2 separate regions of the Homo sapiens genome follow, and region 2 is linked to region 1. The links come from fine-mapping of genetic effects on gene expression. A gene starts in region 1. The other region holds a variant in brackets. All regions are shown on one strand. Distances are between the middles of the regions. Region 1 holds the start of ABCA4 (ATP binding cassette subfamily A member 4). Region 2 overlaps ABCA4 (ATP binding cassette subfamily A member 4).

The links. PIP is the estimated chance that this variant, and not a neighbour inherited with it, causes the effect.
Region 2: its variant is fine-mapped to the expression of ABCA4 in nasal epithelium (TOPMed, PIP 0.96).

What each region holds. Positions count from the first base shown.
Region 1 is chr1:94,119,537-94,122,448 of GRCh38, forward strand. It overlaps ABCA4 (ATP binding cassette subfamily A member 4), which reads right to left and starts at 1,612. Exons shown (of 50, transcript NM_000350.3): 1 at 1,444-1,612. The coding sequence starts at 1,509.
Region 2 is chr1:94,019,798-94,022,632 of GRCh38, forward strand. It overlaps ABCA4 (ATP binding cassette subfamily A member 4), which reads right to left. Exons shown (of 50, transcript NM_000350.3): 33 at 2,049-2,154; 34 at 1,843-1,917; 35 at 1,443-1,612. Among named protein-coding and RNA genes, the nearest start is that of ABCA4, 100 kb to the right of the region's middle. RefSeq lists an enhancer at 949-2,148. The variant G/T (reference allele first, on the strand shown) is at 1,234.

The sequences.
Region 1 (2,912 bases):
AGGTCAGGTTCAGAGATCCAGCAGCAGCCTCCATGCACGCCTTCCTCCCAAGTCCTAATGTCAGCTCCACAGACCTCTCATCTATGCTCCAAGTCTTAATAATTCCTGTCTCTTCCCTTGGTTCTCTCAGCCCTAGGGGTGGGAGCTGTGTCCTGCAATTGCTACCTCCATGATACCTTAGAGTTTCCTTTTACTCTCTCAGGTACCAGCTCTGTACTTAGCTAACACCTTTTCATATTAAACTCTAAGGAGACCCTAACTGAGACACTCATTCATAGGCCTTCACCTGTTCCAGTTGGCCCCATCACCTACATGAACTTATTCTGAACCGAGATTTGGAACAAATACTGTTCTCTTCTCGCCTAAAGCAGGTCTCCCTCCCTTTCCTCCTGATCTCTCCAGTGGCTTGCAGCTCCCAGGGTCCTAATCTCACCCCTACCCAGCCCCCATCCCTTATCCCCTCCTTCCTCTTTCAGCTCCTTTAGTCATCGGCATTTGCACAACTCTGCAAGGCTGTAGCAAAGTGCATTCTTTCTTTACAGTTCTATAGTCACTCCTTATCCTTTCCCAGAAAAAATTGCACAAAGCCAGTTGTCATTTACAAGTACAGTCTTGGTGTTCTCTGATCTCCGGCACCTTTTGCTCGCACTTCTCATGGACTATTCCACCTATGCTACTTTATGTTGCTCTTGGTCTCCAAACGTACTTTGGGTTTTCCCAGGCAGAACAGAAGCCAGTCCAGGGTGGAATCTGTGTCGTGCTTTTAGGGCTCCAGTCTAACCCAGGCTGGTGTCTGCTCATTGAAAGAGTTCAGGAAATGTGCGTGATGGTTAATAACGTATTGCATCTCACAGAATCTAGGACGCAGTCAATTGTAAGACACACTGTTACTTTTCTGCACCACTAAGAAAGAAAAATAATGTGTCCAGTTAAACTGTGACTTGATCGTGAGCTGCATCCCAATTTCAGAAATGCTAACATGTGAAAAAACAATGTGCCTCAGAGAATCAATGAAATAAGGCCTCACTAAGCTGGGAAGCTGTTCGAGGGGGTTCTTGCTTGCCTTTGGCCTGCTCTTCAGGGCTTAAAGTTCTTCCCACTGCTCAGCGTGGATGCCCTAGAGAGCGGTAGACTGGACAGGCAGGTGTAAAACGGGGGGTGGGGGAGGGGCGGGCAGGCAATGGATTGACAGGCACGGTAGGCAAAAGATTTTCATGTGGCTGAGGACAGAGAAACACATCTTCCTGGGAAGGGCACTGTCAGAGGGGCCCACAGAAAGGCCGTCCAGCTAAACACTGCTTCAGTGCTAATCGGCGACAAGCCCACTGACTGCTCACAACCCCCCACCCTGCCCCACCACCCTACCCCACCACCCCACCCCACACTTCCAACCTGTTTATTTGCTCCACACCTCATTTTTAAACCACAGACAGTAACTGTTACCTTTTGCCTTTTCCGCAGGGTCCAGTTCTTCCAGAGCAAAAGCTGTATCTGTCTCACGAAGCCCATGCTAATGACCACACGAAGACCAGATTGGTCAGAGCTGAGGCCCCTCAGACAGCAAAGGACATAAACGCCGTTAAGAGCGCCTCTGGCTCCGGACGCTGTGTCCTTCTCCTGGTGATTAAAGGCTACTTTTCCCCTTCAAAGCATAATCCCTTTTAATTACACATAAGCCCTTAGTTGGGGAGAGGAGGCCGACACTGTGTTGGCTCCCTTTTATGGAGAGAAAGAGAACCCTAAAGACACAAGTGGCTGGGCACCAGGGAAATTGAGGTGGGGGATGCAATGGGAAACCAAGACCCTCAGGCACTCTCCTCCATGAGAGGGGTTCCTGAGGGGGATGTCTTTAGGTATCTTTGACCTTAAGTTTGGAACAAAATCTCTTTGCATAAATATAGGCTGGGCATTTGTCCTCGGCAAGAGCCTGCCATGAGCCGGCAGTCAGGGTTTGACTGGCCCTTTAAGTCCAATCGACTCACTCGGCAGATCTGAAGTGATCCCTCCCTCTTTTAGTCTTTTATCTTGCTCCGTAATGACTGAAGTCATTATGGTCAGCTAGTTGGGTTATCTCTGAGCTTAGCAGAGGGTAATGATGTTTATCTCTTGTGCTGAAATTGATCGACTAGTAGTGGCTGCTTGGTGCTGTGATGGAAAAGGCACTGGAACACTCCAGGCCCAGCAGGACAGAGCCGTGACTGACTTGCAATGTCTGACTGGGGTGCGGGTATGAGGAGAGGCAGCAGGTGGGCCCATTACTGTCATTCCAGCCCTGCAATGGGGTGGTGCTGGGTTGACTCATCACCAGGTGGGGGATCTGTGATCCCAAGGGACACCCCAAACAGAAGCCTCCCTGGCACTTCGCAGTGGAACTTTTTGTCTCTGCCTCCTCAAATCTCAGAATGTGTTCTCTTTGAAAGACTCTAGACCCTTGAGACCTGGATGGGGCGGAGGGAGAACCACAGAGAGGAATGGATGCTGACTTCATAGAGTTTGCGGTCTGGTTGTAAACACGGGACTTGAACTCGAATAACTCAAGGAGTGTGATGAGGGCCCATAGGCTGTGCATGGTGGAGCTTCCAAGAAGAGAGAGATAGTTTCTGCTTATGATGGCAAAAAGGCTCCTTGGAGGTGATGGCATTTAAGACAAGCTTGCAGAATTACAAAATAATATTTTATAGTAAGTTTATTATTTATAAACTGCTTTTGCATATGTTATTTCATTTTAGCCTCACTACAATTTTGTGAGGTCCATATTTGCTGTTTTACAGATGAGGAACGTGAAGCTTAGTGAGATTAAGTACTTTGCTCACGGTCCCACATGGCAACGGTGGGTACTTGAACAAGTGAGTCATTTAAACTCTGCAAAGACAGGGAGGAATAGCTTATCTTGCCCAGGAAAACCACAAGTG
Region 2 (2,835 bases), 100 kb before region 1:
GAGGGAAGAGCAGAAGGAGGAGAAGATACAAAGTCAGGCTTTGGGAAGGCCTTACACCCGCCCAGGTGTGGCCTCCAGGTTCCTCTTCTCTACCTTGAAGCTGTCACTCCACTAAACTGTCTTAATCCATATGGACCAAGGTTAAATGGGTATTTGCGGGTTGCCTTTCTATTTCATGTGAATATTTCTAGACAACCTTTCTTTTTATTATATTCTCTAATTATTTTTATGGTGTATAGAAATAGATGTTTATATTAATCTTATGTACTGCAATGCTCTCATTAGCTCTAATAATCTGTCTATAGAGTCTCTTGAATTTTCTATGTTGACAGACATACGGTCTGTGAGATTTATCTTTTGTTAATAATCATCTTGTTAAATCACATTTTCAAGAAGTACATCGTAACACAAGGAAATGTTCATGATGTAAATTTAAGTGAAAAGAGGGCAGGCAAGTTGTACAGGGACTTGGCTCTATTTATTCTTTCCTCGGACAAATAGAAGGCATCTGGCTGAGGGGTAAGTTGGGGCTAAAGCCAGCCTGAACTTTATGTACAAGCCATAACCCCTGGCATGGGACAGTGTCCACCTGCAGAAAAGAGCATTTTTACTAATTTCCACAAAGGTATCCTATGTGGTAGTCACTACCTTGATAAAACTACAGATCATATCATCCATACACGTAGTAAGCTTAGAACAAATGACTGGAAGGAGACACACGAAAGTGTGGCTGAGTGAGAATTAACAGAGGACAGTCTAGGGCCCTAGGGTGTCCAGAGGAAGACACCAAGGAGCCAAGGCCCAGGTTTTAGTGGATGACCCTGGGCATGTTCACTGGCACTCAGCGTGTGCTAGGATAGTAAAATCAGGACCCCACAACGTTGCTGAAGTTTGCACTAACAAAGGTGCTCCTACCAACCCCTCCTCCATGTAGGCCTCAAATAGAGTGAACATACTACAAAACGCACAAGGCCACTGTCTCCACTGGCTGAAACTGTGCAAGAAGAGCCTCAGCTTGAGGGTAGCAAAGCTCTGTCGACATCTCCAAAGTATGCTCTTCTGAGGAAATTCCTGGAATCTAAGATAATTACTCCGAGGGAGCTGAAAGGTTTACTGAACTTTGCCAGTTCCTGGCAGCTGCTTTGCACATAGCAAAGATAATAATTGTATAAGCTCCAGGAGCAACTTGCTATCAAAAGCCAAAAGGGAATGGAACCAAATGTAAACTTACTT[G/T]CCACATAAATGTTGGGGAGAAAGAATGACCAAGAGGTCTGGTATGTGAAGTGTGAGGCACTTATTTGAAAGTCGGATGTTCATATGTGCCTGACTAAACAGCATTACCATCCAAATCAGCACTTCGCGGTGGTGAGAATCCTCTCAGGATGTTCAAAGAGTGGAGAAGGTGACAAGAAAGTGGTGAGGCTGGGGCTGTGGTGGCTTACACTGTAATCTCTGAGAGCTGCTCCTTGGTCAGGTTCAGGGGTTGGCTAATGACGGTGATTCCATACTCCTCGGGGCTCCTGTCCTTAGGCAGGCTGGCCCGTAAGATGGCGTTGTGGGCCACATTGAGAAAGCTGACCAGGGCATGCCAGCCTTTGTTATTAAACCACACCTAGAGGGTGGAGAGGACATCTGAGACGCTGCACTAACAGCTAGTTAAAGCAGAAATCAGTGAAGGAAAGGAAATTTGAGAAGCAGGAAGGGTTTGGTAGCTGGAAGACATTCCTTGCTAGATTTCAGCAGGAGGAGGGATGGAATTTAATGAAGGTAGGAAAGTAAAAATAAAATAACCAGCTCAGGTAAATTTTTAGCTCCAGAGCAGATTATACATAGGTCAAGTACCTTAATGTTGTCTTCAGTTTCTAGATGTTTAAGGAAATCAGGTATTTCTTTAGAGGCCTCTCTAGTGATAGGGCCCTAAAAACCATGTAAACAAACAAACAAGACGGTTTTAATTTTTTTTTCCTGTTATCACTCATGAGAGTTTCTCATTCATGGTAGTTAAGCAAGTCAAAAATCCTACTCAAATCTCCAGTCTGTTTACATACCCCGCTCACATTCATGATCCGGCCAAGGTCGCTTAAAAACCCAACAAGTGCTTCCCCCGTGATGGGGACGACTGGGAGCTTTCCTCCAATGGAAATTCCTCCATACCTGACAAGGAAACAGGAAATCCTCAGACCAGGGCCACGAACTTCACGCCTACTAGTAGCTCTCTCGGGTTTTGTAGGGAAACATGAACTTTCGGGGGAATTGCCTGGACCAGCGAGCAACATGGCTCCACTTTACAAACCAGCTTTTAACTCTTTTCCCACTGCTGCTGCCTCCAGGAAGGAGTCCAAACCCTCATCCTGGCCTCTGAGGCCCTTCTGCATCTGGTCTGTGCCCCTCTCCAACTTCATCCTTCCTCAGCCCTTCCCTGGAGTGGCCTATTCTGGACATATCGAGTCACTTCCAGAGCTCCTCATGGCCCAGACTGCCTGCATGTCTCTGCCTTTGCATGGCTGCTAGCTCCCCTCGGCACCTTTCCCTTTTGGGAGCATCGAGCCAACTCCAGGTCCTCTTTCACATGTCACATGTCATCTCCTCCCATCCCAGCCAAGGACTCCTTTTCTGTGCCACCTCTGTGCTTTGCAGGTACTTCTAGCAGCACAGGACCCATCTTCATCCTGTCATCCCTACCTCTCGGGGCTTCTGTGCCTCACACCTGTTCAGGGAGGCCCTTAGCCTCTCCTGCCTGGACTTGTGCTCTGCTTCTTCACTGGCCCTGGGATCTATCTCCTGTACTGCCCTGGAAGTCTGAAGTGACTGTGTGGAAACACCAGTCTGAGTGCA